Linked DNA regions of Homo sapiens: regions 1 and 3 are each linked to region 2. The links come from fine-mapping of genetic effects on gene expression. A gene starts in region 2. Each other region holds a variant in brackets. All regions are shown on one strand. Distances are from middle to middle. Region 1 overlaps MFSD1 (major facilitator superfamily domain containing 1). Region 2 holds the start of MFSD1 (major facilitator superfamily domain containing 1). Region 3 overlaps LOC100287290 (a long non-coding RNA gene).

Evidence for each region.
Region 1: its variant is fine-mapped to the expression of MFSD1 in whole blood (INTERVAL, PIP above 0.99).
Region 3: its variant is fine-mapped to the expression of MFSD1 in whole blood (TOPMed, PIP above 0.99).

The regions. Positions count from the first base shown.
Region 1 is chr3:158,823,280-158,833,961 of GRCh38, forward strand. It overlaps MFSD1 (major facilitator superfamily domain containing 1), which reads left to right. Exons shown (of 16, transcript NM_022736.4): 12 at 149-246; 13 at 845-957; 14 at 2,736-2,783; 15 at 4,001-4,058; 16 at 5,700-6,437. The coding sequence ends at 5,703. Among named protein-coding and RNA genes, the nearest start is that of MFSD1, 27 kb to the left of the region's middle. The variant GGCCTGTTTTA/G (reference allele first, on the strand shown) is at 5,859.
Region 2 is chr3:158,795,193-158,805,749 of GRCh38, forward strand. MFSD1 (major facilitator superfamily domain containing 1) reads left to right here and starts at 6,862. Exons shown (of 16, transcript NM_022736.4): 1 at 6,862-7,123; 2 at 9,127-9,179; 3 at 10,170-10,282. The coding sequence starts at 6,961.
Region 3 is chr3:158,753,043-158,764,182 of GRCh38, forward strand. The region is part of intron 4 of LOC100287290 (a long non-coding RNA gene); the gene reads left to right. It also overlaps the pseudogene RPL35AP9. Among named protein-coding and RNA genes, the nearest start is that of RARRES1, 26 kb to the left of the region's middle. RefSeq lists a silencer at 7,591-7,786. The variant A/G (reference allele first, on the strand shown) is at 6,686.

The sequences.
Region 1 (10,682 bases), 28 kb after region 2:
TTTGAATACGAATTTTAGCCTAATAACAACAAAATTTGCTTGAATATATATATATTAACTACTCTGTCACTTTTGCTAATCTGCATTAAAGGAAAATCACCTTTTGGTTAATGTAAGACTGTGACCTTTTCTGCGTTGCTTTCTGTAGTGTCTTCTGGGACTCTCCTACTCATTGCTTGCCTGTGCATTGTGGCCAATGGTGGCATTTGTAGTTCCTGAACATCAGCTGGGAACTGCATATGGCTTGTAAGTATTTACGCTGTGGATCGTATATGTCTGTCTCTGCTATGTCAATTTAATTATCATATAAAACTCCAGATCTGAATCTAGTCGTCATCCAGCCTCTGGGGTAGCGCTGAACCTGGAGATAACTGGAAAAGTCAGTAAATCTATTTAAGATACTGTTGTGGCCACAAAAGAGCCTCCAGCAAGAGGGCTGGAGTAAGCTAACCCAGAAGAGGTCCTTGCTGACATTATAATCTCCCTGCCTGTTTATGTGAGGCTTCTTAGTGAGAAGCTGAGTCCAGTTCCTGGCACAGAAAGGCAGAGGGGGGAAACCGCACCTGTGGTTGATATTCACATGGCCCTTCTTTCATTCAGCACAAAGGTATTGAATCCACATTGCACTTAATGAGACAAGCTCCCTTACCTTTGAGCAGTCTAGTAGTGGAAATAGTTATGGGATAAAAACCAATCCAAAATCTAATCAAGTCATCCCTGGTGGAAAACATCTCTGAACACAAATAGTATATGGTTCACAGATACTAATATTTATAGTGAAGTGTTAGCCTATGTGTGAAGACTTTTGAAAATGAAATGTGTCTTTATATTTCTTCCATTGTAGCATGCAGTCCATTCAGAATCTTGGGTTGGCCATCATTTCCATCATTGCTGGTATGATACTGGATTCTCGGGGGTATTTGTTTTTGGAAGTGTTCTTCATTGCCTGTGTTTCTTGTGAGTATTCCGTATGACAACATTTTGTTTCTTTTACTACATAACAGAATGTTCTTATTTTTACTTAGGCATAGCTCCCAGATTTGCCTAATTCTCACCTGTGAATTAGAATTTCATAGCTGGTGACTTTCTAGCCCTCTGAAGATTCACAGGCATTTTTTAGGAGATTCCTATCCTTAAAGGCAGTGATTGAGTTGGTTTCATATTCTGTTTTAACTATTTACAGTTTAAAAAAAAAAAGCATTTTCCCACTTAAAGTGGAACAATTTGAAGAGTCCTGAGTATATCCTTAATGTGACTATGTGGAAACGTTGGTGTGATTTAGGTGTGAGTACTCATGGTTATTCATTAGGCAGTTTTAACTGATTTTTATTTTTAGTCCGTAATTTAGTTTTTACCTGTAATTTCATTGGTTTGAAATTGGAAGCATTAGGAAACTTGAAAAATATATAAAAATAATAGCATTTGTCCATAGGTAATCTTTACCCTACATATAAATTGTGTTTATCTGAAAAGAAAATTCTCCTTAACACATCAAGATGTCTTTTATAGTTCAATATTGTGCTTAAAATGACAAACCACAGTGATGATTTTATCAAACTTTGTTTTCATTTATAGGGAATAAAGACCATCCATACCTGAAGTGTGGTATTTGCAGATAATTGCTTATGAGTTGCCTTGAGTGCATTTTATTATCTCATAAATAAACGTGCTTGTTTTAGAAACAAGGACGTCAAGTTTTAAAAATAAATGTTTAAAAAAGTGGGTCATATAAGAATTTCAGACATTAAATCATAAAATGTTTTTTGTCTATTTTTGTTGTTGCAGCATGTGGTTAAATGTCAGTCCACAGTTCAACATGTATTTGGGTCTCAAAGCAAACAGTGTGCCGTTTGAATATGTTTTTCTGTTATTTTATTTTATTATTATTACTTTTTTAGAGACAGGATTTGTCTCTGTCACCCAGACTGGAATGCAGTGGAGCAGTCACAGCTCAATGTAACTTTGAACTGCGGAGTTCAGGTGATCCTCCCACCTCAGCCTCCGTGATAGCTAAGACTACAGGTGTGCACCACCATGCTTGGCTGGTTTTTAAATTTTTTTGTGAAGATGCTGTCTCACTGTGTTGCCCAGGCTGGACTTGAACTCCTGGCCTCAAGCGCTCCTCCTGCCTTTGGGATTACAGGCATGAATCAAAATAATAAGATAATAGGCCTGCCCTATTATTTTAAAGTAAATTAAACAGTGTTCTTCACTTATTAAAGGAAAAAGCCAAGGGAAAACTTGAATTTTGAGGTCTTGATTGATTTGAGTCTAATGATCACATTTTAATGTTTGGTTACTTGAAATTTGTAAAATGGACATGGCATTTTCAGACTTAAAGCCCCCAAAAGACTACTATTTGGCTTCCTCTGAAATGATAAACAATCGGGGGCTGGCAGGAGTTTTTGGTAAGTCCTGCAAAGGACCAGCACTGAGAAAGGGAGAGGAAAGAGGGGCAGGGCTGGGCTGTGGCTGGGTCGGCTCCCTTTTTTCTAGGGGCCTCAACTTCTTTGTTTCTGGCCTGCCACCCCTGGGCTGAGTAGCCCTTGGAGAAAATAGTGTGTAACTTATTTTTAGTGCTTTTGGAAAATAAAATAATGGGAATAATATTTTTATTTAAAATAGCAATTAATAAAGGTTTGATTGTGTCTAAGCTTTGCTTTGTGATTATGATTACATAGGAATCATTGAGAAGAAATACATATTTTAAGGGCCCTATGTTTTTTCACTCCTAGTGTCACTTTTATCTGTGGTCTTACTCTATTTGGTGAATCGTGCCCAGGGTAAGTAGAAGATCTGATATTTGCTTCTTAAACCGCAGTGGATCATCTTGTGGGGTCTCTGGGTCTGCCTCTTTGGGGGCCAGTGCTTTATTCCATGCAGTAATGACTTTCTGTTCATAATGATGGAAACACATTTGATTATGTAATATATAATTATGTTTTCTGGGCCTTCATATTTATTAAGATTGCTGTCATTTTTTAAAATCTAGCCAGATGAGTTTCTTAATAATATAAAATCTTAGATGTTATTTTTATATTAACATAAAGAAATATAGCATTTAAAAAGTAACCTAAAGCCCCTCTGTGTTATTGTCCTACGTTAAAAGAAATCAGAACTAAGCAAATTTATAGCTATAATTTACATTTTAAGGTTCAAGATGTTTGGTTTAGAATTAGAAATTACAGATTTTTTTTCTTTTGCTAATTCGTACTGTATGCATTAGTGGATTTTTGTTGTTGTTCTTGATAAGATTTTGATGTTGTCATTAGTAATTTTTCTAACTGCTTGCTCCTAAAGAGTTTTATATATTTAGTAGAATATAATATATATGCTGTGTAAATAATTTCAGGTCATTTCCTTTTTTTTTTATTTTAATAGTTTTTTTTTTCTTTTCTTTTTTTCTTTGACAGAGTCTCACTCTGTCACCCAGGCTGGAGTGCAGTGGTGCGATCCCAGCTCACTGCAGCCTCAACCTCCCAGGATCAAGTGATCCTCCCACTTTAGCCTCCCAAACAGCTGGGACTATAGGTGTATGCCACCACAGCCAGCTAATTTTAAAATTTTTTCTAGATATGGGGTCCCCCTATGTTGCCCAGGCTGGTTTCAAACTCCTGAGCTCAAGCAATCCTCCCGCCTTAGCCTGGGATTTACAGGCGTGAGCTACCACACCTGTTCATTTCCTTTAATTTCTCTTAATTTTCACTATTATTGAATATTAATACAGTGTCCTAAGTAACAACACTTGAAGCAATACATAAGTCCAAACTTAAAAAAATGCTTAAATTAAGGGGTGATTATTTATATCACACAAGAATTTCATTTTTTCCCTTTGGGAAGGTTCCAGTAGATAAACCATTACTTTTTCATCGTCGATAGCTTTTTCTATTACTTAAAATACAGTGTATCTATGCAAATGGTTGCATGTATGTATGTATGGTTGAAATTTACTTACTGATAATACTTATATGGAAAAGATCTATGTTTATTTGTGTTTTAGGTGGGAACCTAAATTATTCTGCAAGACAAAGGGAAGAAATAAAATTTTCCCATACTGAGTAAGTATTAAAAGGGTAAAAAGTTGTCTTTATTTTTGAAATCTTAAATATGAGCATTTCGTTTCAAGGTTTGGGCTTTGAAGTTTTTTTTTTTTTTTTTGATTCCCATGCTTGTCGTCCAGGCTGGAGTGTAGTGGCATGGTCACAGCTCACTGAAGCCTCAACTTCCTCAGCTCAGGCAATCCTCCCATCTCAGCCTCCCAAGTAGCTGGGACTACAGTTGTGTGTCAACATGTCTGGCTAATTTTTTGTATTTTTAGTAGAGATGGGGTTTTGCCATGTTGCCCAGGCTGGTCTAGAACTCCTGGGCTCAAGTGATCTGCCTGCATCGGCCTCCCAAAGTGCTGGGATTACAGATGTGAGCCACTGCGCCTGGCCTGGGCTTTGAACTTCTAAGAGATTAGTTTTCCTTGAGTTTTGAGAGCTAGCTATTATGTGTGTGGAACTATTATAACAACATTCTTGTTTGCTTCAGAAAATTTAAAAATGGATATTAAGGCTTGAAACGAAGAAAAAAAATAATTCAATTTAAGTTGTTCTCTGTGAGACAGAGAGAGACACAGAGAGAGAGAGAGGGGGAGAGAGAGAGAGAGAGAGAGAGAGAGGGGGAGAGAGAGAGAGAGAGAGAGAGAGAGAGAGAGACAGAGATCGATCTATATTACTTGTAATTTATTGGAGGAAAGGCCTTCGTCCTGAGGTCCTGGACTGGGCTTACCCTTCCATTCTCTCAGATATTTTCTTTTTCTTAAGTAGTTGATAATTTTTCATCTTCTTCTGGTACCAATATGTGGTTCTGTGTTCTCTGATTCATTTGGAAGAGATTTAAGTATATAGCATGGTGATTAAGTTAACATTTCTTTTTCTAAAAGTATGTACTGAAACATAATAGTGATTCTGTTTCCTGTTATTTCTAATATTTTTAGACATTGAAGTTTTTATGATTTTAAACATTTATTTGTAAATATATATACCATGTGATTGTAATTGTTGTGACTTTTGACTAGGTTAAAATCTGGTAGAACAGTCTGTTTTTTTGAGATGGGGGTGGTTTTGGTCATATTAAATTCACTTTTAACAAATACATCTTAAAATAATCAGAAGTATGAGTTTTGAATATCTTTATGATAGTCATATTATGTTAAAAGTTTGGAAACAACATAAATGTCTTAGAGTAGGGAAAATGGTTAAATATATCATGACACATCCATGTGATATGTTGTTAAAACCATGTTTTAGAAGGATTTTTAATGTCATAGATGCTTAACATGCCGTATGCTAAGTAAACAAAAGATAAAAATGCAAATATAATATCCTAATTTTATTCAAGAAAAAGTATGCTGTCACATGCTTGTTTTAAACCCAATTACTTATGTATAATAGAAAATATACTACTAGAAATAACCTCATATTAATTGAAACCTCAGAATATTAATTAAAAACTCAGAATATTTTTCAAATTTTCTACATTGATCTTTTGTGACTTTTAGGATCAAGAAGAGTTAAAAAATTGCTCAGAAAAAAAATGTGTAGCTTAGTATTTGCTATTACATGTCTTGTAATGCTTGGTTTTCATTTTATAAGGCAGGTGAGCTTCATGTTTTTTTCTTCCTCTTTGGTAATTTATTGCGTTATGTTTTGCAGATGAGAAGTTAAAATGAATGTGTCATGAGAATGGGCTTAACACATCGTTGGTTTGAAAACTTCCATTTTTAAAAATTTAGAGTTTAGTCATTAGAAAAAATAATGGACTGGAAAGTTATATTTATATCCAAATATACCTATTTCAAAGTGTATTTGTGA[GGCCTGTTTTA/G]GCCTGTGTCTTTTGTATTGTGTGTTGCTAAAGAATTCTACTTTTAGTAGGCTAATCAACAATGAAAGGGTTAGAAAATTGCTGTGGAACATCCAGGTGAACTTCAGGAAAGACAGTGAAAAATGGAAAACGTTGGAGCTTCTGTTGAGATAATCTTCATTAGGTATATATCTTAGGGATACAGCCTTTTCTTTATCTTATAGCAGGAAAAAAAAACTTTTGAGGGAAATAGAAGGGCTGCGTTACACAAAATAAACAATGGCATTGTCATAGGCCTTCCTTTTACTAGTAGGGCATAATGCTAGGGAATATGTGAAGATGTTTTTATGAAGTCTCTTTCTGATCACGAACAATAGCTTGCGCTCTACTCTGTAGTTATGTGGATTGCCGAGCAATGACCCTTTTCAATTTCTTATTTCTGTGTTACTGAGGACCCTAATCACTTAGGGATGTAATTTTATAGTATAAACTTTCTGTACAGTTTTTCTTATAGTCTAATAAGTAAAAAGTGTCCTTCAAATTATGATAATTGCCTATGTACATGGATAAATTAAAACACTGCACACGGAGTACTTGATGTCTTCTTTTGATTTTAAAAAATACAAAAACACTGATTTTAACTTTTATTCATGCAGAAGATTATCTAGAAGAAAACCCAAGTCAGAATAAAGAGAACTTGCCCAATTACAGTCACTGAAAGATTATGGGGGTAGCTTTTTCTCCAGAGTAGAACTTTAAGTAACATATGTGGTTTTTTTTATATTAAGTAAAATATGAGTATGAAGCTTCTCTGACAAACTTTAAATACTTTTTAATATTTTTCAGCCTTAACATATTATTTGTTAAAGTCAAAGAATGCAGATATTTTAGACAAGATATTAAACCAATGTATTTAGCTGATTATATTGTTTAAAGCACATGGCATGATATTGTAAGTGTAAATGTTTGGGAACAGATTGAAAGTACGTTCCTTATGCAAGGTAGCTTGGCAGCTTTATTTACATCTGTTTTTCTGACTTACAGTTTATTGTGTTGATATGACTTGTCTCTGTGTCCCTACCCAAATCTCATCTCGAATTGTAATCCCTATGTGTTTGAGGGAGGGACCTGGTGGGAGGTGACTGGATCATGGGGGCAGTTTCTCCTATGCTGTTCTTGTGATAGTGAGGGAATTCTCATGAGATCTCATGGTTTAAAAGTGTGGCACTTCCCCTTCACACTCTCTCTCTCTCTCCTACCACCATGTAAGATGTGCCTTGCTTCGCCTTTGCCTTCTTCCATGATTTTAAGTTTCCTGAGGCCTCCCAGCCATATGGAAGTGTGAGTCAGTTAAACCCCTGTAATTTACAAATTACCCAGTCTCAGGTAGTATCTTTATGGCAGTGTGAGAACTGACTAATACATGTGTCATTATTGAGTTGTTAGTTCTTTAGGCTCTGACGCCATATGACTGTTTCAGCACATGGGTGTTGAATACCTCACAAGTGGGGGAGAGTGCAGGAAGTCCACACTACTTCTGCTGGAAGGCCCATGTGGCCTGGCCTCTTGCCTTGTCTCTCCACCGCCTCTGTGCCCCAGCCACAGTGAGCTGCTTACATGTTTTCAAATGGGTTGTGTTCCTTTCCCTCCCAGCGGCTTTGTCCACACTGTTCCCTTTGCTTAGAATGTTTTCTCCAAGGCTCTCTAGAACCTGTTTTTACCTGATTTATACCAGAAAACCTTAGCCCCCAGCCCAGAACCATTCTTCCTCATGGAAGCTCTTCCAGATCCTTCAGGGTGTATTGGGTTCTTCTAAGTTGCTGTGATCTTGCAGTTTTCCTTTTTAGCTTACCTCAACTTAAAATAATGAAGAATCTCTGATAATGTGGGTGTGGGTGTCTCTCTCTTCCTTAAATTGGAAGCTCCTTGAGGGCAGGGACTGCGTCCGTTTTGTTATCGATGATTATATTGATAGTGCCTAGCAAAAGTAGGCACAAAATAAATATTTTTTTGAATGATATATAAAAAGAGTAAATTAGAATAACCCTTTTGGAGGATGAATTGGCAATATGAATAAAAAGACCTAAAAGGGGGATGGTGGTGGGCTAAATGCCTTTTGGCTTAGCAATTCCATTTCTAATAACTTGTCCTAAAGAAACCATCAGACAAATATACATGTAAATATATTTTAAGAAAGCGTCTTCACTGCCAGATTTTATAATAGCCTAAAGTATAATAGAAAGCCACTCTAATTTACAATAATAGGGGATTTGTTAAGTACATCATATTACATACCTAAAGTGAAATATTAAGTAGTCATTAAATGGTTTTGTTAGAGAACATATTGACATGGAATAATGTTGATGACATTTTCACACGGAAGATTCATAGTGGTGCCATTTTTATAAAAACAAATATATCTGCATGATATGTACACCAGTGTCTCTGAATGATGAATTTCTATTGGCTTATTTATGTTTTCTGATTTTTTTTCACAATAGCTCTTTATTGTGTAATGAAGGTTTTAAAAACCCCACAAAGAATATAGTTCAATGCAAGTTTGAGTCCTGCTGTTTTAAAGTGATAATGTTCAGAAGGGAGGAAAGGAACAGGTAGTGTTTTTCAAAGAACTCTGGGGGTGAAGATGGGAGTTCAACAGTGCCATGAGTTAGAAATCAAATTTGCATTGCCAGGAATAAAATTGCACGTAAAGGGAATTTTCAGAGACAAAATGGAAAAGAATGGTGTCAAGGATAAACGAAACAATGCCTTTATTTTTTAGTCCTAGTATTCACTGGTAGCAAACAACAGCTCCAACTTGTGTGCATGCTGCTCATGATATCTGGAAGGCCTCAACTGCAGCCTCATATCCTTTGCCCTCTTCCATTTGAGTGTTCCTGAGTGCCCCAGTGGGGATTTGGTTGTAAGCCTTCAGCAGTGATTTGCTGCCAAAAAGTTCATGGAAGAAAGCTTTGAGTTTTTGTAAGAAATACTAAAAAGCCCTGACATCGTGTAGGCCAGACAGCCAAACTTAGTATAACTTATTAACATTTATTTCTCTCAAGTATATTAGTGTATATGGTCATGCATTCCTGTGCACATATCTTTTCTTCAGTGGATCTTTATCAGTTCCAGGTTCTGGCAGCTGCCTGCTACAGTAATCCACTGTATTCCCAAAACTGATCTTCCCCTTGTAGATTTGGCAGATTTATTGTGTAATGCAAATCAGTGGACCTACAGGGCATTTCATTTCAGATTATCATGTACTTGTAGGCATTTGTCATTTTGTCTTTTTGAAGAGGATCACCTTCGGTGTGTGTCTTCCAAGTTTTACCACGTAGTAGCTTTTGTGTTTCCATTTTCTTATTAGCAAAATAGAAGATCACTAGAGTTCCTTCTATAGCACTCTCATTCTTAATTTATGAGACATAAGGATATGGCTAATATATGTTAGATGTGTATTGGTGGATGACCTAAAACATCTACAAATTTATCTCTCCATACCTTGTGTAGTTGATGGGTTGGGCAAGCTGGGCCTTCCTGGATTGCATTCACATTACTGTGGTAAGTAAATGAAGCACCCTGGAGGGGCAACAGAATGCCCTCTGGAATTTCTAAAAGTCAATGAGTTATCCCAAACAGCTGAAAGTGTGGGCTAACTTCTTGCAAGTCTTGCTCCCTCCCGCCAATATTGAGGCTTGTTCAGTTTTCCAAGGAAAATCCGATTATTGTGGGGGTTCTATGTCTTACCATGTTCAGATAGTTTTTAACCTTTGGAAGCCAACCCTGTCTGTCCTGGGGAAGAGGTAACGAAAAATTTCACGACAAATGGGAAACCCCCACCTCCAGCCCAGTAGAGCTCAGATTTCACAGGGTAAAGTGAACAAGAGATGGACAGTGGATAGAGTGGGTGGGAGGAGGATGAGAGAGAGGCTGGGCTGGAGCTGGAAGCAACAGGGTTCAAGAACTGGGAAGAGAAAATGGCTGGAGGTAGTAGGAAGGTGGGCCTGGCAGCAGGTCATCCCAGGATTTTAGAGTCATGCCTATGAGGTAAGTGTTAGAGGGAAGGTAAGAGTCCTCTTCCGGCTCTGGCAGGGTCCATGGAGGTAGAGGCCAGGCTTAGTGGATGGGAAGGTACAGGGAATGGGCCTGAGGACAATCATATTATCTCTTAAAATGTTTTCCGGCCGGGCGCGGTGGCTCACGCCTGTAATCCCAGCACTTTGGGAGGCTGAGGCGGGCGGATCACAAGGTCAGGAGATCGAGACCATCCCGGCTAAAACGGTGAAACCCCGTCTCTACTAAAAATACAAAAAATTAGCCGGGCGTAGTGGCGGGCGCCTGTAGTCCCAGCTACTTGGGAGGCTGAGGCAGGAGAATGGCGTGAACCCGGGAGGTGGAGCTTGCAGTGAGCCGAGATCCCGCCACTGCACTCCAGCCTGGGCGACAGAGCGAGACTCCGTCTCAAAAAAAAAAAAAAAAAAAAAAAAAAAATGTTTTCCATGACTTCTATTTTTTTTTTAGAATTCTGTGAATTTTAATAGAGATTTGTGCTATGACACCACAATTAGGATGCAGAACAAATAGTTCCTTAATGTTTCAAAGGAAAAATATTATAATTGCCTTTTAAGATAATGTATGTATTCTTTTCATGTGGAAATATTTGAATTATCTTAGAAAGTTCTAGTTTATTTGTCAGCACTTAGATTTTTAAAATGCTTTTTGAGTCTAATGACTAAGTACGTAAGGTTTTATGATCATGCTACTTAGTATGTTTCGTAGACAATTTTTCACCTTTTAACATTTCTGAAATTGGGATGTGTCTTATCTTTGTT
Region 2 (10,557 bases):
CTTATTAAGCAGTTTTCAAGCTGGCCCTGTTCTAGATGTTTGAGATACAAAGATGCACAAGACTCTTAGGAGGTCAAAGTGTGGTGTATATAGTTTCAGATTTACAGAAAAGTTGTAAGGCTAGTAAAAAGAGTTCCCACATACCTCTACCCAGACACCTGAAATGGCAACATTTTACCATGTTTGTTTTATTCTCTCTCCATATACATATATATCTAATATATGTACATGTCCTTTGACTTCTAAATATCTCAGTATGTGTTTTCTAAAAACAAGTTCCTCCTCCTCCTCCTCCTCTTCTTCTTCTTCGTCTTCGTCTTCGTCGTCTTCGTCTTCGTCTTTTCTGAATTTTGCTCTTGTTGCCCAGGCTGGGGTGCAATGGCTTGATCTCAGCTCACGGCAACCTCCGCCTCCTGGTTTGAAGCGATTCTCCTGCCTCAGCCTCCCGAGTAGCTGGGATTACAGCTATGCGCCTCCACACCCGGCTAATTTTGTATTTTTGGTAGAGATGGGGTTTCTCCATGTTGGTCAGGCTGGTCTTGAACTGACCTCAGGTGATCCATCCGCCCTCCTTGGCCTCCCAAAGTGCTGGGATTACAGGAGTGAGCCACCACGCCCGGCCACAGGTACCTTCTTTTATAACCACAGTCCAGTAGTCAAAATCAGAAAATAAATGCTGACAGAATACAAATTACTTACAGAACTTAGATTTTGTCAACTGTCCCAATAATGTTCCCTATAGCCAAAGAAATCCTGGATCATGTGTTGCATTCAGCTGTTATGTCTCTGGAGTCTTCTTTAATCAGGGCAGTTCCTTAGTCTTTTATGACACTGAGAAATCAGGCCAGTTATTTTGTATAATATCCTTCAATTTGGGTTTGTTTGATGTTTCCTTATGCTGAGATTTAGGTATGATGAGCTTTTGTTAGGTAAATCACAGAGTTTTGTGTTTTCAGTTTCAGTGCATATCTGGGGGCACATAATGTCACTTTGTTCCAATACTGGTAGTATTAACTATGATCACTTGGTTCACGTATGTGGGCCAGGCTTCTGCACTATTTTTTCCTTTGTCATTAATAAATCTCTGGTGAGGAGCTACTTTGAGATTATGCATATATCCTTTACACTTCAAACTTTTATCCACTAATTTTAGTAACTACTGATTCTTGCCTGGATCAGATATTATGATGATGCCTAGCAAACAGTGGTTTTATATTTCCATCATTCCTTCTACATGTATTGATTGGCTTTCTATTACAAGGAAGAGCATTCCTTTCTCTTCTGTTTGTTTAATATTTATCCCAGGTCTAAGGGAAGAATGTACACTATCTTCACTGCCATTTAACATTGAACTGGAGATACTCACTACTGCAGTTAGTAAAGAGAAATCAATTGAAGGCAGGAGAACTAGAAAAGAGTGAGTAAAACTCTTTGTCTTTGCAGATGGTATGACAGTACACCTGGAATATCACAGAAAATTAACAGCAAAACTAAGTCAAACTAGAGAAGAATTCAATAAGTTGGCAGGACATAAACTTAACATACATAAATCAACAGCCTTCACATACATAATCAGTAACATGACATAAAGGTAGAGAAAACTACATTTACAAAAGCAACAAAGAATAATAAATTTAACAAGAAATTTGTAAAATATATATGAAGAAAACTTTAAAACACTCTCAAAAGACATGAAATAGTTTGAAAAACTGGAACACCACTTTTTTTTTTTGTATGTGATGACTTAACATTAAAAACTAAAGTCTCCTTAAGTTAATTTTCAAAGTTCATTAAAAAAATACCAGTTTTCTTATGGAGCTAGGCAAGCTGATACTAATTTCAGGTGGAAAAATATGGAAGAATATCCAGGAAAACAAAAATAAAAGCTATGAAAGGGGACTACATCTACCAGTCACTAAAACATATTCTAAGGCCTCTAAAATAAAAACAGTGGTCCTTGTGCATGACAAGAAAGAGCAGTACAACCGAAAAGAAAGTCCAGAAGTAAACCCAAATACATATGGGAATTTAGTATGCAATAAAGGTGGCATCTCAAATCACTTGGACAAAGATGGACTTAACAATTGGTTAGCCATTTAGAAAAAGATAAAAAGTTTGATCCATACCTCATACTAGGCAAAAGAATAAACTCCAAATGGGTCAGGAATCTAAATCTAAATAATGAAACCATACAAGTACTAGAAAAAAAAATGGGTGAATTCTTCTTTAACCTGGGTACAAGGAAAGGATTTCTAATTATGTTTCAAAATCCAGATGCAATAAAAGAAAAAATTGATAAATTTGACTATATTCTAAAAAAAACCCTTTTCATGACAAAACAAATAAGCCAAAAACTTCATAAAGACAAAAGACAACTGTGAAACTGGGAGAAAAAGGGTAATACCCCATTAATGTACTGTTAAAATTGAGACGAAAGACTTCTTTTGTGCTTAGGATATGAAAAGCTGCAATGAACATCTTTCCTTTCTCAATAATGAGAAAAACTCAGATGAACTACAAAGTCACAACCTTAACTGAAACCATCAGACACAGCTGGGTTGCAAGGTAACCAGGTAGCCTGAACTCCTGGGAAGGGCAAGCCCCCAAGGAGAAGTTCTCAGGCATGCACAGGGGAGTTGGCACTGACTAAAAAGCTCTTTCCTGTGTCCTTCTCTGGATGCTCAGTTTGGTGGGTACATTACCTTTTTACCTTTTTTTTTTCTGTAGGTTTCACATTTCTATAATAATTTTTTGAAGCCCTGAGAATTAAAGCAAGTTTCCACACTCCTAGAACCAGTTTTAAACCCATTCAATTAATCAACTGCCTCAGTAAAACTTGTTTTGAAAAACCCCTCCTTTCTCAAAGTCAGCCAATGACAGGTTCACTCCAATAAATTCAGTGGAGAATTAATAACAGTCTTACCAGAATATCTACTCTTCTACAGGTGATGGCAAACCCTTTTGCCTCTGAAATGCACCTATTCCTGAACTCTGTATTCCCCAAAGCTCCATAGAGCATCAGCAGCCAGCTCTGCTTGGGGAGACTGTGCCGACCCAGCATAGCTTTTCCTTATTAGAGTACACAGTAAATCCAGTTTCGTTGCTTTTTTTTATTTTTATTTTTTTTGAGGCAGGGTCTTGCTATGTCACACAGGCTGGAGTGCAGTGGTGCAATCACGGCTGACTGCAGCTTCTATTTCCTGGGCTCAAGTGATTCTCCCACCTCAGCTGGGGCTACAGGCGCATGTCACCACACCTGGCTAAGTTTTGTATTTTTGGAGAGATGAGGTTTCGCCATGTTGCCCAGGCTGGTCTCCAATTCCTGAGTATAAGCAATATCCCCACCTCAGCCTCCCAGAGTGTTGGGTTTCCAGGTGTGAACCACGGTGCCTGGCCCAGTTTTGTTTCTTTTAGTTCAAATATTGATGGTTGACTCATAATTCCTTGACAAACCAAAGCTCCAAACTAACTAAAAAGATCATTTTGATTGTTGTGCGGGCAACATATCATAGAAATGCAACAACGGAAGTAGAGAGACCAATTGAGGCTGTTGAAAATCTTGCGTGAGAAGCAAACCCCTGGAGTTATAAAATAAAAAGAGAGTTTGGCATTAGAAACTATATGGAAATATTACCGTAAACAGAGTCAAAATAAATATATGCAGCTCCTATCAGCAACAAAGAGCCTATTTAATCAATAAGAAAAAGCCTCAATAATTCATCTGGAAAAATAAGCAAAGGATATGAAGATTATTCCTAGAACAAATATAAGTGGCTGTTAATCACATAAAAGAGGTTCAATATTCCTCAATATAATAGAAATATAAATTGAGACTGCACTATGATAGCAAATTTTCACTGATCATATTTGCAAAGACCAAAAATCTGGTAACAAGCTTGATTAGGATGGTGTGGCAAACAGACTGTTTCCAAGATCGTCCTCAAGAATAAGAACAATTTCTAGGCCACACTGCTGGGCTGAAAGGAAGAAAAACAACTGTGTGTAGTAACTCTGGAAGGATGCAAAATAATCTGATAATGATGATTACTTCCCAAGAGTACTGGGTATAGGGAGGCAGGAAAGACTCGCTTTGAACTTTATTCTCTTTGGTACTGTTTGAATGATATACACCAGATGTATCTCTCATCAAAATTAAGCAAAATAAAACAATTTAAAGAGTCTGTTGTGATTGTCTGGGAGAGATCATTCTGGTAAGAGGAGTAGTGATGGAGAACATGCACAATGAGGGTATATTTTGGAAGAGAGTTGACAAGACATGCTGAGGGAGTAGATGTAGGAGATGAAGTAAGCCATCAAGGATGACTGCTAGACTTGCGGATAGCAAGTGGTAGAGAGATGTCCCATTTACTTTGCTAAGGAACACTTAGGGAGGAATAGGTATAGCATGGGTGAGAGAACTCAAGGATTCTGTTTTAAATGTGATAAGTTTGAGATGCCTATTAGTCATCCACATCATCCACGTGATATCAAATAAACAGTTGGAATGGTAGTCTTAGGCTGAAGAAAGGAGTCTGGAATGAAGGTATTTTAGAGGCAACAGCATATAAATCCACACTGATAAACAGAAATACAATGTAAGCCACATAGGTAATTTTACATTTTCTAGCAGCCACATAAAAAGTAAAAATGGGTGGAATTAGTTTACACACACACATATATATATATAAACTAAAATAAAATTATATATATATAATTTTTTTTTTGAGATGGAGTCTCCCTCTGTCACCAGGCTGGAGTGCAGTGGCGCGATCTCGGCTCACTGCAACCTCTGCCTCCCGGGTTCAAGTGATTCTCCTGTCTCAGCCTCCTGAGTAGCTGGGACTACAGGCGGGTGCCACTACGCCCAGCTAAATTTTGTATTTTTAGTAGAGATGGGGTTTCACCATGTTGGCCAGGATGGTCTCGATCTCTTGACCTCAGGTGATCCACCCACCTCGGCCTCCCAAAGTGCTGGGATTACAGGCGTGAGTCACTGTGCCCGGCCAGTTTTAATATATATACATTTAACCTAATATCTGCAAAATATTATTTCAACATGTAATCAGTATTCAAATTAGGAGGTTATTCTATTTTTCATACAAGTCTTTGAAATCTGGTGTGTATTTTATACGTATTGCACATCTCCTTTCCAACTATCCACATTACAAATGATCAACAGCCACACATGGCTACCTACTGGACAGCAGAGGGAGGGTATTTAAAGTTATGGGAATGGATGAGTGGAAGAGAGCTCAGGAATGGGTCTTGCATCATTGAACATCTAGATTTTGAATAGAAGAGGAGGAGCTGACAAATGAGACAGCAAATGAGATAGGCCAGCAAAGTGGGAGGAACACAAGGCAAGTATGGTGCCAAGGAGGCTAAAAAGGAGTGGCTGTCAATTCCATCAATTGATAGAAGTTGAGTAAGATGACAGAGAAGTGACTAATGTATTTGGAAAGATGGAGTTATTACTCCTCTCGGCAAGACAGTTTTATTAGATCGGGAGCTCCTCCACTGGAGCTGAAGAGAGAATGGACTGTGAAAGTGGAGATATGTATAGACATCTCAAAGGCAGCACCTGATCCTTGACACTCTCTCCTACCTCCTTCTCTCTCTAAATTTTGATCTCTATTGGCGGCCCAAGCTAGAAATCTGGGAGACACTCTCAAGTCTTTCCTCTCTTTCAGATCGCATAGGCTATTATTTACAGTTATTCCCATTTTACCTCCTAAATAATTACTGATTTTCTTCTGTGCCATTCCTGCTTTTTATTGCTAACAGGCCCTCGTCATCTCTAATCGTTACGACTGCAGCATCTTCCTAATAATCCTCACAGTTTTCAGCCTCTAGCTTTGACGCCCTCAAAATTCTGTTAGTAAAGCCTGAGGGCTCCCAGAAAGCGACGATGGTGCTGTGCTGGCAGACCGAATGTTTTTTAAAACACAAAGCTTGCAGTCCTGCTGCTGTGCTCAAAATCCTTGCATGGCTCTTCTTGAAACAGGTTTAGTGTTTCTACTCGAGTTCCTTCTCTGTCGTTCAACACAAACACATACACACCCAGTTCTGTTTCACGCTTTTGTCTTTATTATCCCTCGTAACTGCCCGCCCTGCAACCAACCCGCTCAAACAAGCACCCTGACTGGCGCATTCTTACTCATTCTAGCCTGGGTTTCAACTTCAAGGAGCTTCAGCGCCCCTCACTCCCTTGCCCTGAAAGCTGGCTAAACTACGCACCTTTTCTCCCCTTTTGAAATGACCTTTCCAGATATTTCTATGGAATTCAGTGCCATTTTCTGCCGCTGTTCTCACCACATTCATTCATCATGTTTAGTTTTAAAAGTACCAGATTCTGTCGATTTCTCCAACTGAACTCTGAAATCTTTGAGGTCAGGGAGCTTGCCTCATTCTATTTTGTATTCCCAGTACGTGACACATGGCTGGACACACCAGAAATTGTCCGATCAAGTTTGTGGGTATTAAGAGTGGTCAAAGACGCTGGGGAGGGCAGTGCTGGGAGAAGGGCAGCGCGCGTCTTGGCGACCCCAGCGCAGTTCGAACTACTCCGGAGTCTGGTGTGGAGCCGAGAGGGAGCCCCGCACTTTTCTCCCCGCGGAGCTGCGCTGAGTCTGAAATAGGTGTACGCGTCAGCGGGGCAGGAAACGGAAAGACAGTGCAGTAATTGGTGGAAAGCTGGAAGTGGGCACCTCGAGGGCCTCAGCCCCACGAACACAGTCACCCAGGAAAAGCGAACCGCGCCAGGCCCTGTCATCGACCGCTGGGTCCGTCCTCCCAGCGCTCGCGGCCGCTCACATGGGCGTGGCCCTGCGTGACCTGCCGGGGCGTCACGTGAGCTCCCGGAGTCATGTGACCGCCGTCTTGACAGTGTTCCACGGGCGCTGCTTCCTGCCTGGGTTTGGAGTTGTCACCACTTTCCCCTCTCCGTCTCCTGCGGGCGCAATGGAGGAGGAGGATGAGGAAGCGCGGGCGCTCCTGGCAGGCGGCCCTGACGAGGCCGACAGAGGTGCCCCGGCCGCCCCTGGAGCCCTGCCGGCCCTCTGCGACCCCAGTCGCCTGGCGCACCGGCTTTTGGTGCTGTTACTGATGTGCTTCCTTGGCTTTGGTGAGCCGGCCGGGTGGGTTGGGGCTGATCTTTAAGGAATTCCCGACTTTCTCTTCGAGGTAGATCGTCATCGTGGTCACTGGTGCCACGGGGCCTCAGCGCAGCTTCTGTCTTAAGCTCCTGGGCCTCCTTATTTTCCCCTTTGCGATCGATTCCAGCCACACCTGTGGATGTTGCTAGTTACTCCGCGTCCGGAACGTGGAGGTCGAGGGACTGAGCTGGGCGAGTTTTGTGGCACTCCTTTGCTCTTCAGTAAGTCCCAGGGGCTAGCGACTCGCCCTAGAGGCGATAGATATGAAGGTAACTCCAGATTTTCAAGGTTCCTCTTTTGGCACACGTGGTCGGAGGAAATTCAGAAAGCTTTAACTGTTCCTAAACAACTTTTGTTTGTTTGGTTTTAGGTGAGACAGGGGCTTGCTCTGTCACCCAGCCCGGAGTGCAGTGTTGTGAAAGTGGCTTACTGCAGCCTCCACCTCCTGGGTTCAAGCAATCCTCCCGCCTCAGCCTCCCGAGTAGCTGGGACCACAGATGGGGCGCCACCACACCCGGCTTTATTATTATTATTATTTTTAGACACAGGGTCTTACAATGTTGTCCAGCTTTTAAAAAACGTGAATGATTTCGTCGGCAGTCTTCTATATATTTTTCACCCTCTTTGAGAAAATGTATGAGTGTGTCTTGCTGATAGCTTCAGTGAATAGATATTGTTCTCTTAATCTTCCACTCTGCCACTGTGAAGCAATCATATTGGACGGGACTTGTGGTAGTCTTGACAGTGGTTGGTTTCTCTTATGAAATCTGATGTCTCCGAAAACAGTTTCTTGATAATTAGAAAAAAATTTTCCTTCCTATGTTACAGTTTTTAATTTATTAAGCAAAATTCTAATATTAATTTGGTATGAATGTGTTTTTCAGGAGGCTAGCTGGAGCCCGTGTAATCAGCAGGTTTAAGAACATTATGGTGGATAACTATTCTAGCGCTGAACATATAAGTAGACATGAAGGATGCTTTGGGCTTTGGTTTCCTTGCAACTCCTTTTTCCCCCCTCCCCTGTTTTTTAAAAGATGATGCCCATCCATTAGCTTTAAAGCAGGACGTTGAATCCTTAAAAGAGATTAAAGCAGGGTTTAGAAACAACCACCACCACAACAAAGAAAGAACAACAATAAAACATTAAAAAAAATGGTCCCCACTCAAGCAGACAGACAGTTTTTGGTAAATTCTGGTTATCTGCCTAGAATTCAGAAGCCAGATTCATTCCTTTCTAATGACAGTTTTTATTGTCATTAGAACCAATAGCCTCGTGCACTTGTAGAGTTAGTAGAGCTATGGAGGCAATATTTTCTTGTAGCCTACGAAGGAATCTCAATTATTTTATCTTTAAAATAAATCCGAGTGCATGGTCAGATCTCTCCCTACTTCTCTCTTTCCAGTTCCCCCAAAGACATGTTTTAATTTAATCCTTTAGAATTCTCAGTTTCATTTTTTTTTCACTCCTGGCCCTGTATTCACTAAATTATTTGATTTTGGGTAGTTTGTAGAATTAGAGAACTTGTTTCAAATATTGGTTTTGTCAGAATGGTTACACTCCATTCCTTTGTCCTTAAGCTAACATTATTAGGAAACTGATGAGGTTGTAAAGTTTTTAGTGTATGTGTGTTTGTAAATAAGGAAATAAATAAAATATAGATGCTTCATGAAGATATTAATAAAATAGTATATGTGTGAAGCATGATGAAAGTAAAATAGAAAAATATTTAATTGTTGGTTGTTGACTTTTTAATTCAGGTTCCCAGTATTTGCTGTGTATGAACACTACCAATTTATGGAAGTTATTTGATATAACTTAGAAAATACTGGTGGATAAGGAAGTGGTTCAGAAATATTTCTGTAGTGTCAACCCGTAGTATCAGCATTTAAAATTGTAATTTCAGTAGCAACTGCAACTTGAAACTTTTATATGGGAAGTATTATTACTTATAAAGTATTTGCTCTTTTCTAGGCAGCTATTTTTGCTATGATAATCCTGCTGCCCTTCAGACTCAAGTTAAACGAGTAAGTTGATTTTTCACTCTTGTTTCTTTTGTTTTCTTTAGAGCAAGTGTAGCGGTGGAGGCATTATCAACCCTCAGGTGCCCTAGTCTCACGTGTCCGCTGAATCTATTTTGACATCTGTAGTCACCAAATCCACAAGTTGCAAGGGGTGTTCTTAAGTTGAAATGAGTTACCACAAATAATTCATTTATAGCACATATGTGACTTGAAATTGTTTCAGACCTTAGATAAATAATTATGTGGTATTTCCACAGTATTGTCAAAAATATGAGCAGGTTTTTGTTTGCATTTCACTCTCCCAGTGCTTAGTCACCCGAATGACAAATGATTTGTTAAGATAGCTTTTTGCCTTCTTAAATAGGTTTTAGTTGTTATTTTGTTTTTTAAATGTGGATACTGATTGCAGAGGATTGTCCATGTCAGGATTTTTAGTCTGGTTTTGTATTGTAAGAACATACTTGATATTTACAGTTTTTTGGGTATTTAGTCTCTTTTCTTTGTAGGTTCTTTTTAACCTTTGGACAGGGAAAATGCATAGGTTGACCCTTTTCATTCTAGAATGAAAGAGAAAGGAAGTAGGAGGAGCATGCTTGAGGGGATGGAGAGGGTAGGGTAGGTAGGGATAGGCTAAGATTATCCTTGTATATGTGGGCAGAGTCCCCAGTGCAGGTAGTATATAGAAGTTATAGTCAGACAGAAGTGGTCCCTGTAGCAGGGTGTCTGATCCTGGAATCCAGGAAGCCCCTGAAATGGCATGTGAACTCAAGAAGTTCCCAGGGTTCCCAGGTGTGACCATTTTCCTGGGCCAGGGGCCATAGCTTTCATGAGATTCTCAAGGAAGTTAGTGAGACTTATAAATGGTTAAAAAAAACTTGCCCTTTACAGAAAGAAGAATGTAACTACTTTCCACTTTAGATTGTCATATTTTGATTTGTTAGTTGCTAAACTTAACTGTTTGGAAAAAAATAGTTTTATTTTCTTTTCATATAGGATATGCAAGTGAATACCACGAAATTCATGCTGCTGTATGCCTGGTATTCTTGGCCCAATGTAGTTTTGTGTTTCTTTGGTGGCTTTTTGATAGACCGAGTATTTGGAATACGGTAAGCTTGAAAAGAAACTATGGGTAAATCTTACCTGATTGTTAGAAAAATACAGAGCTAGATTAAGGTATTTCTAGAAAGAGCTGAATAAACTTCTGTATTAACTAATAATTTGCTTGAGTTTTTTAAAAAAATGATTTTTATATCTCTGGAGTTGGTTTTTGAAACGTGGTATTTCAGTTAAGGTCAGGACTAGTAAATGCTGATGGTATAAGGTAACTCAGTTATCCATAGGAAAATTATACTCACCCTTGGGATCAGGTAAACCAGGTTCT
Region 3 (11,140 bases), 42 kb before region 2:
TGGGGTGCATTGGCTCACACCTGTAATCCCAGCACTTTGGGAGGCTGAGGCTGTCAGAGCACTTGAGGCCAGGACTTTGAGAACAGCTTAGGCACCATAAGTGCCATCCTATCTCTACAAAAAAGAAAAAGAAAATTAGCTGGGCATGGTGACTTGTGCCTGTAGTCCCAGCTACTCGGGAGGCTGAGGTGGGAGGATCACTTAAACCCGGGGGGTTGAGTCTGCAGTGAGCTGTGATTGCACCACTGCACACCAGCTTCAGGGTCTACAAGGCTTCACTCTGTCACACAGGCTGGAGTGCAGTGACATGATCACAGCTCACTGTAGCCTTGACCTCCCAGGCTCAAGCAATCCTCCCACCTCAGCCTCCCAAGTAGCTGGGACTATGGGCACGAGCCACCACACCCGGTTAATTTTTTATTTTTTGTAGAGATGGGGGTCTCACTATATTGCTCAGGCTGATCTCAAACTCCTGGGATAAGGCAGTCCTCCCACCTCGGCTTTCCAAAGTGTTGGGGTTACAGGCATGAGCCACCGCACCTGGTCAAACTATCATCTTACTTATAATAGATTATAAAACTCTCTTGGATTTTCTATACTAAGGTAGTCAAAATTTTAAGAAGGCCTCCAAGATTTTCACCTCTTGATGTACATACCCCATATAATTCCCTTCCCTTGAGTGTCAGTAGAACCTGTTAATATGATGGGATAGTCACTCCCATTATTATGCTGTACCATTTAAGACAGTTCTAGGTGACCGAAGGGAGAGATTCTCCTGGTGGCTTTGAACAAGTAAGCTGTGACAGTGTAGGCCAAGTGGCAAGGGACTGCAGGCGGCTTCCGGGGGCCAAGAGCAGGCCCCAGGCAACAACCATCAGAAAACGGAAGCCTCACTCCTATCATCCCAGGGAACTGAATTCTGCCACCACATGAGTTTGGAAGAGGATCATGAGCTCCAGCTGAGAGCAGAAGTAGGGCCTCCGCCTTGATTTCAGCCCCACCTTGATTTCAGCCTACTGACACCCTGTATAGAGATACTGACTTCTGACCTACAAAACTGTGACATAATAAATGTGGGTTTTTTAAACTGCTAAATTTGCGGTTATTTGTTACCCAACAACAGAAAGCATTGTAAACATTCTTGCTGTTTGCAATTAATGGCAAGATTGTTTCTTCCTTTCCAAACCTTATACATTTTATATTTATTCCTGGCCTTATTTTCCTGGCTAAAACCTTGAGTTAAATAGAAGGGACGATATTGAAAATCCTTAAATTTTTCTTGATTGTAAGGTAATTATTTTTTATTTTTATTTTTTTTGAGACAGAGTTTCACTCTTGTTGCCCAGGCTGGAGTGCAATGGCTCGATCTCGGCTCACGGCAACCTCTGCCTCCTGGGTTCAAGCGATTTTCCTGCCTCAGCCTCCTGAATAGCTGGGATTACAGGCATGAGCCACCATGCCTGGCTAATTTTGTATTTTTAGTAGAGACAGGGTTTCTCCATGTTGGTCAGGCTGGTCTCGAACTCCTGACCTCAGGTGATCCGCCCGCCTCGGCCTCCCTAAGTGCTAGGATTACAGGTGTGAGACCACTACAGGTGTCTACCCGGCCGATTGTAAGGTAATTCTTCTAATATGTCATCATTAAATGTTTTTGTAATCTTTTAGAGAACATCTTTGATGAAATCATGAGCTTTAACTTCTCTTCCTACTTTGCTAAGAGTTTATTTTCCAATTACGAATGGGCTTTAAAGTTGTTATGTGTGTTTTCTACAGCTATTGAAATAATTATATGTTTTTTCTTTTTTAACTGTTAAGCTAGTTTCTACGTTGATAGATTTTCTGAAGTTAAGCCATTATTTCATTCTTGGAATAAAACCTAAATTTAAAAATGTAGTACATTGCCAGTTTTAGATTGTTAATGTTTTATTTAAGATCTTTGTTATCTTTCTTCAAAGGATTAGTAAAACAATTGTAAAGCCTTCAAAGATTGTTGATCTTTTCTTTCCCTCTTAAATAGACTTTATTTTTTAAATCAGTTTTAGGTTCATAGCAAAACTGAGCTGAAGGTACAGAAATTCTCATATTTCCTCAGCCTCTCCCACTATCAACATCCTGCATCAGAGTGGAACACTTATTACAACTGATGAGCCCACATTGGCACATCATTATCAATCAAAGTATATAGTTTACATTAGAGTTCACCCTTGGTGTTGTATATACTATGGGTTTGGACAAATGTGTAATGACATATATTCATATATTCACCATTGTAGTATCACACATAATAGTTACCCTGTCCCAAAAAGTCTTTGTGCTGTTGAAAATGATTTCTTCTTTAACATCTTTCATCTCTTCCTACCAATCCCTGGCAGCCACTGATCCTTTTACTGCCTCCATAATTATGCCTTTTCCAGAATGTTGCATAGTTGGAATGATGTCGTATGTAGACTTTTAAGACTGGCTTCTTTCACTGAGTAATATGAATTTGTTTTCTCCATGTCTTTTCATGGCTTGGTAGCTCATTTCTTTTTAGCACTGAAGAACATTTCATCGTCTGGATGTGCCACAATTTCTTTATTCATTGACCTACTGAAGGTCATCTTGGTTGCTTCCAAGTTTTGGCAATTATGATAAATAAAGCTGCTATGAACATTCATCTATGGGTTTTTGTGTGGCCATAAGTTTTCAGCTCCTATGGGTGAATACCAAGAAGCACAATTGCTGAATCATATGGTAAGAATATTTTTAGTTTTGTAAGAAGCTGCCAAACTGTCTTCTAAAGTGGGTATATCATTTTGAAAGATTGTTTTTGTTGTTGATTTTTTTTTGTAACTTTTATTTAGCTGAATAGTCTATTTTCGTTATGGAACCATGCATTTTAGTCATTTATAATAATTATTGTGTGGATTTAATATACTTATAATGTGGGTTAACATTTGGCAGTGCAAACCCATCACTCATCCCAATGTATGCATTATTTTCTTCTTCAAAATTTGTGATGCTGAAGTATTATTCTATAAACCCCTCTCACCCCTTTGCCCCCTAGTTGTTGATTTTTTAAAAATTGATTAAATTTTTAAATTATTGTTTGTCTCTAAATGCTTAACAGATCTTTTCAGGTTTTTTATTCTTCTTGAGTTTTTAAAATATTTCTCTAGAAAATTGTGTACTTCATCTACATTTTTATTATAATATTGTTGTTCATAGTATTCTTTCATGAGGTTCTAAAATTTCCTATACCAGTATTTATATTGAATTTTTATTTTTTATTATTGTTGATATGTGCCTTTTCTTATTTATTATTTGCCAGGTTTGTGAAGTTTTTGTTTTATAAGTCTTTGTCAAGAGCCAGCATTTGGTTTTATTAACTCTATTTAGTTATCTTTGTTTTCTTATTTCATTCATTTCTGTTCCTGCATTTATTAGCTCTTTTCTTCTACTTTGTTTTGTTTATTAGTTATATAGCTTCCTTTTTTTTTTTTTTTTTTTTGTTTTTGGAGACTGTGTCTCACTCTGTCGCTCAGGCTGGAGTACAGTGGCGTGATCATGGCTCACTGCAGCCTTTGACCTCCCAGGCTCAAGCAATCCTCCAACCTCTCAGCCTCCTGACTAGCTGGGGCCACAGGCACATTGCCACCATGCCCAGCTAACTTTTATATTTTTGGTAAAGATGGGGTTTTGCCATGTTGCCCAAGCAGGTCTCAAATGATCCTCCTGCCTTTGCCTCTCAAAGTGCTGGGATTACAGGCATGAACTACTGTGTCTGTCTATTAAATCTATTTAGTTATCTTTGTTTTTTATTTCATTCATTTCAGTTCTTACATTTATTCTTTCCATTTTATTTATTAGTTATATGACTTTTTTTAATTTTATTTTTATTATTATTATACTTTAAGTTTTAGGGTACATGTGCACAATGTGCAGGTTAGTTACATATGTATACCTGTGCCATGTTGGTGTGCTGCACCCATTAACTCGTCATTTAGCATTAGGTATATCTCCTAATGCTATCCCTCCCCCCTCCCCCCACCCCACAACAGTCCCCGGAGTGTGATGTTCCTCTTCCTGTGTCCATGTGTTCTCATTGTTCAATTCCCACCTATGAGTGAGAACATGCGGTGTTTGGTTTTTTGTCCTTGGCGATAGTTTGCTGAGAATGATGGTTTCCAGTTTCATCCATGTCCCTACAAAGGACATGAACTCTTCATTTTTTATGGCTGCATAGTATTCCATGGTGTATATGTGCCACATTTTCTTAATCCAGTCTATTGTTGTTGGACATTTGGGTTGGTTCCAAGTCTTTGCTATTGTGAATAGTGCCGCAATAAACATACGTGTGCATGTGTCTTTATAGCAGCATGATTTATAATCCTTTGGGTATATACCCAGTAATGGGATGGCTGGGTCAAATGGTATTTCTAGTTCTAGATCCCTGAGGAATCGCCACACTGACTTCCACAATGGTTGAACTAGTTTACAGTCCCACCAACAGTGTAAAAGTGTTCCTATTTCCTCACATCCTCTCCAACACCCGTTGTTTCCTGACTTTTTAAAGATCGCCATTCTAACTGGTGTGAGATGGTATCTCATTGTGGTTTTGATTTGCATTTCTCTGATGGCCAGTGATGATGAGCATTTTTTCATGTGTTTTTTGGCTGCATAAATGTCTTCTTTTGAGAAGTGTCTGTTCATATTCTTCGCCCACTTTTTGATGGGGTCGTTTGTTTTTTTCTTGTAAATTTGTTTGAGTTCATTGTAGATTCTGGATATTAGCCCTTTGTCAGATGAGTAGGTTGCAAAAATTTTCTCCCATTTTGTAGGTTGCCTGTTCACTCTGATGGTAGTTTCTTTTGCTGTGCAGAAGCTCTTTAGTTTAATTAGATCCCATTTGTCAATTGTGGCTTTCTCTTGAACTGACTGTGAAATCATTAGTTTTTAAATTTTTCTTCGTTTTTGAATATATCTGAATTTTTCCCTCTAGGTTCTGCATTACCTGCATTCCATATGATATGTAGCATTTTCTTTGGTATCCATTTCTAAATACAGTATTTTGTTATTTTTTAAATGATTTATTCTTTAACTCATGAAATATTTAGACATGTATTTCTTATTTTCCAAATATGTTGGTTCATTTTTTATTTGTTTTGGATTTTTAATTGTATTTTATTATGGTTTGGGAACTTGATCTGAATGATACTGAGTTTTTATTTACTGAGATTCCTTTTGATGTTCATTCAGTGGTCAAGTTTTATGAATGTTCAGTTTTTTCAAAAATACTTCAAATGTGACAAAAATATGTCTGTAATGTCAGGTGCATGATTCCATTATCTCACATTTTTGAGGTCTCTCTTTATGGCGCTCTTACAAGGTTGGTTGTCTTTCATTAGATCACAGGGCTTTCTGATTCCCTGCCTAGCTCTCAGTTTAATTTTCTGAGTAAGGATTCCTATAATCTGGGGAAAATGTAAATATGAATACCATTCCCTTAAGTGGAATAGGTTTGGGGGTTTGATTTTATGTGAAAAACTTACTCTTTTTTATCCGTAGAAGCAGGCAGATTACAAACTCCCTTGACACCCACGGTGTTGAGGGAAAATGTATGTTTATGTGTATAATTTTTCTAGCCTCCTTTTCATAGAGGGGCTTCACAGGGAGTTTCAAAACTTGTATTGCATTTATTAGAAATTTCAGAGGCTAATCCCTACATGAACAAGTGGATGGATGATAGAGATGTACCAATTATAATTACATATACATACAGCTATATGTATATATTATATATGCAAACAGATACATATGCAACACTATAACTTAGATTTTCACTGTAATGTATGAACTAGCACCTATTTCAAACACTGCTTTTGAACTTGATAGAAAGACATTGGTTATATATATTTTTAAATTATATTTTAAAAATTCTATCAAATTGTCTGCAGTCATTAATTAGGTTATTCAGAGCTGCCTCAGCAAACTTATTCTGCAGTTGAGAAAATGGGAACTGAATGGACTTCTTTATCATCAATTTGTGCCATTGTCTACAGAAACTTAGATCAGCTTTGACTAGCTTTTTCCTTCTGCTTTTTTTCAAAGAAGATTTTTATAATATGTGGGACAGGGACTGTTAATTTTCTCTACTACAACATTACATTCTACTGAGCTGATTGCAATTTTATTTAATCTTCCATCTTTACAGATGGAAGGCCTCCAAAGGCTTTAGTAGGCCCCAATTTGGGAATATAATCACTCTGAATGAAGAAACCAAAGTAAGTAAACTGTGTGGTATTGGGGGAAATTGGGATTGGGGTGAGGTAAAGTCTTTTTTTTAAATGTACTAAAAACAAGATCTCCCTTGACTTTTGATAAAGGCAAGTTATCCTAAATGCTTAAACCATTTGACTTAATTCTTGGTAAGGATGCCCATTAAATTTGATTTCATCCACTATAGTTCTGAGCTCAATTGCTTTTTGCCTCATTTATTTTTCTTAGGCCCTGAGAGAGGATGGGTAGGAGCTCTCCACGAAGGAGGCCCAAAGTGGTCCGTTCCTCCACGCTGGCACTCTCCTCACTAGGTCAGCTCATCTTCTTCTAACTCAAAACAACACATTGTTTCTCTCAAGAAAAGTGATTTTTGAAACCATTATTTTTGCTATTTGACAGGCAGGATTGTTTGTTTATACTAACTCCA[A/G]CTCCAATCATAATACTGTACACATGGTGCTCAAGAAGCTGGGTGGTTCAGAAAGAAGTAATGCTTCCAATGATGGTGGGCATTTTCCAAGTGTTTGATCTGTGCCAGATGCTGGGCTAAGAGCTATTGGGCTCTTATTTGATCCACAGGCCAATTCTGCAAGGAAGGAGCAGGTCATTTATTCTGATAATCAGAGCTTGTCAGGGTTTGGATCCTCATTTACTGTTGCTCTACTGGTATACACTGCCCAGATGATATCCATTGTTATTATCCTCTACTCCTCATCCTGATCTTGACCTTGAAATGTGAGCCAATGTGATTACCTGAGAGAATAATTCATTAATGCATAAAAATAATTTATAAAAGTGCTTTTTCTTGAAAAGATTCCTTGAATGCCATTCTAGGAACATTTTCTTCTCATCATTGGCAGTGTGGGCTGGGCACGGTGGCTCATGCCTATAATCCCAACAATTTGGGAGGCAGAGACAGGAGGATTGCTTGAGTCCAGAAGTTCGAGACCAGCCTGGCCAACATAGTGAGACCCTGTCTCTATTCACATATTTAAAAATTAAAAGAAGTTTGGCAGCGTGTTCAGGAAGGACAGGACCTACTTCGATCATCTTACGACCATGAGACAGGATGGAGAAGGGAAGAAGGTGAGTCGTAAGCTATAAAGAAAGATTGATTTATGGGATAAATAAATGAATGACCAGAACTGTAGCTTCTGTTCCACAAAATGGTTTGTAATAGAGAGGACACAAGCTTTGTGATTAGACCAGGTTTGAAATAGCATCCCACTGCTTGCTGATGGCATCCTGGACATGTCATACAGGCTCTCTCAGCCTCAGTTTCCCTGAGGAAAGAAAGAGCAGAAAAGAAAAAATCTTATGGTCAGTGAAATCTCATCCTATCAGAAAAGTAGGTTACAACAACATGGTCTGTTAAATCAGAGCATTATTGAGAATGCAAGTCCTCAAAGATGTACCTTCACTCTAGCACTGCTAACGATACAGGAGAGTAGTGGGGGTGCTTGGCCGTTGCTCACTCTCTTGTGTGTCCCCCTTTGCTCAGAATTTGGTCTCTATAAGGAGCCAGGGCCCCTTACAGGGAAGCTGATTTCCTGTCTTAATCAGAGAAAACCTCAGGATTGATCTGGAGCAAAATAATGATTTCAAGTGGTTTAGGAACCGTGATGAAAGGACATAGGCATTGACCTAGAGAGCTCCTGCCTGCCTTTGGAAATGTGAACGTGGCCCTGAAAATGATAATTATAGTTCATTGAAAGAGTTGAATTTGTAAAAAGTTCATAATATTTATAACAGAAAAACTAAAAGTTCAATAAAAAAGGAAGTCATAATAAGAGTGTGGATGCACTGCTGTGTTTAATTTTGTGTTGATTGTGGTAAGATGAGATGAGTAATCCATGTGGGGTTTCTCCTTCTGTTGGGCTACGTCTACTTGCCCACTTTGGGTGTGGATGTGCACGTGTTTCTGTCGATGTGGAGAGAAGGAGAGCATGGCTGTGTTTGGCTCTGGCCGCGTCGGGTGGGCTCTGTGTGTTGGTAGGAAGGTAGGCTGTGGGCTTCCTGCAAGGCAGTGGTGGCACTGGCTGGTCCCTTTGCCTTGTTTCACACTCCTGCTTTAGGTCTCAGCTTAACGGTCTGTTTCTCAGTAAGCTTGCCACCCAGACTAGTTTACCTCTCTCAGAACCTTTCCCTTGAGAATTTATCACAATAGGCAGTTGTGCAGTTATGTGTATGATTATTTGATTAACGTCTTCCTCTCCCACTGAGCTGTGATCTCCATATGGGCAAGGCCCATGTCTGTTTTGCTCACTGTGTTATTTCCTAATACCTGGCACAGGTACATCACAGGCTCTCAATAAACGCTTGAAACATGAATCAATGGCATAGTGCTGTACCATCCTTTATAAATGTAACATTTGGCTTCATTCCCCACCAGTACAGCATATAATTAACATGCAAATTTCTACCCCTAACACAGTAAAGGTTTACTCTTGAATTTTATTCTCTATAACTTAACAGTAGTTTGATTACTTTAACTTTTGCATCTCTGTCCTCCAGAAAAAGAGAATAATCATAGACTCATGGCACTAAAGGGGACCCTGTTATCTCAACTGGACAATTTAAACATTAGACTAATATTAAGCAATCCAGTCAAGATAAATGAGCTTCCTAAAGTTTCGGCAAGGCAAGGAGGTGGGGAAGGGAGAGCGCCCTGGGTTGGGGGCAGCATGTGCAGAACTCTGCCGTGGGACGATGCCCATCTGGAATGCTTGAGGAGCTCATAAAAGGACAGAGTGGCAGGAGCAGGATGGGGAAGGTGAAGTGGGAAAGTGGGCAGAAGTCAGATACCCCTCTGATGGGAATGTTCCCTTGCCTCCAGTCATATGTTGAAACCTAATCCAAACGAGTATTAAGAGAAGCTCACATGAATGGAATTAGTGCCTATAAAAGGCACCCAGGGAACTCATTTTTCTCTTCTGCCATGTGAGCTTACAGTAAAAAGACTCCTGTATATGAGGAAATGGCCCTCACCAGACACCAAATCTGCCAGTGCCTTGATCTTGGACTTCTCAGCTTCCAGAACTGTGACCAATAATTTTTTTTTTTTTTTTTGGTAGTTACGCAGTCTAAGATACTTTGTTACTGCAGCTCAAATGGACTAAGACAGATACCAAGTTACAAAGACCATATTAGGTATTCGGCCTTTGTTCTAAGAGTGATGTGGGGCCATTCAAATGTTCAGGTAGAGGTGTGTGTGTTCAGACTGTGTCTTCAGAGGCTCACTGACTGCCCTGCTGTCAATTGTGGACAGGCAGAGTGGACGCACAGTACCCTCAGTGAGGAGGGTATGACTGCAACACTTAGCACTCAGTCAGGATGGAGCTCCTCCTCCCCCATGCTGTCCACCACCTCAGAGCACATCAGGTTACGTGATATTTGTAAAAATGACCTTTCTCAGCAACGCAGTGCACTGGACCCATGGTGGGGCCTTGAGGGGCTTCTAAGGTTTCAAAAGTACCCCAGGAGTGTTCAGTATTATAATTATTACTGACTCAAGGGGGGTGAGGCCTCCTAAATCGCAATGACCACATCCTGCTACACCCCTCATATCCTTTTTGAGTTCTCTCCAACCCTAACTCTACTTTTCCTGAGAACATGATCCTCCAGAGCCCAAGGGAGTATGGCCTTTGGCCGTATCTTGAGAAATCTTAATACTTTATAAAATTCAATTCTGTTTCCTCCTACTGACCTGCAGAACTTTTACTTACATCATTTGAGGATTAATTATGAAATTTAGGAAGATGTCCAGGTAAACAGATACGCAGTCTTTCAAAATCTCAATAGTGAGAAGTGAAGTAATTTTTCGCTGGTGGAATTATTAGTGGAGCTATTTTTTTTGTAGTGTTAATTTTTCATCACAAATAGTAGGACACCAACCTTCTGGAAATTCAAGCTAGTTTTAAGGAATTGGAGTAAGATTTAGGACTACATGTATCACTACGTCTTAGATTCAGCAATTAAAACAGTTTATTTTGGGATACATTGTATAAGATAGTACTTTGTTCTTCTCTAATGAAACAGAGATTCTTATTCTATCAAAAGATATCAAATTCATTCTTTTTGCCCTCTTGGAGCCTGGAGAGGCCCATGGGAACAGGGCTTCTGAAACAGCAAACATGTCTGCAGGGCTGTGCCCTGAGGCCACTTTTGCTAGAAGTGACATTTCTGGAACCAGAGGGAGCACACAACTGTTCTTGAAATTGAAGGTGTTTATGCCCGAGATGAAACTGAATTTTATTTGGGAAACAGATGTACTTATGTGTGCAAAGAACAACACAGTGGCCCTGGCAGCAAATCAAACAAAACCAGAGTCATCTGGGGAAAGGTAACTTGTGCCCAAGGAAAGAACAGCGTGGTTTGTGCCAAGTTCCAAAGCCACCCTCCTGCTAAGGCCATTGGGCACAGAATCCATGTGATGCTGTACCACTGGAGGATTCAAATTCATTGAAAAGTAAATAAATACAATTTTAGGTTTGTTAATTTGAAAAAACATGTGGGTATCTAATTTCTATGTGTTGGCAGGGCCAAACAGTGAAACACGGAGCTTCAAGGCGAAGGCAGCTTGTTAGGGTCCCTCCTTCTGACCTGCCCTTGGCAGCACATAGACAACCTGCCTACGAGGTCCTTCCCCCACTGCTGCACTGTCGCAGGGGGTCATTGATAGGTGTCTTATTTTTTATTTATTTTTCAGACAAGGTCTCACTCTGTAGCCCAGGTTGGAGTGCAGCGGCACCATCAGAGTTAGCATGGGATGAACTGTTGGAGAGAGGGCTGGACAATAGGACTGGACTAAGGGATCTTAGTCCTTACTAAGGAATATAGGCTGCAGTGGGCATCTGTTGTGTACCTCAGCAAGAAGCAAGGACCA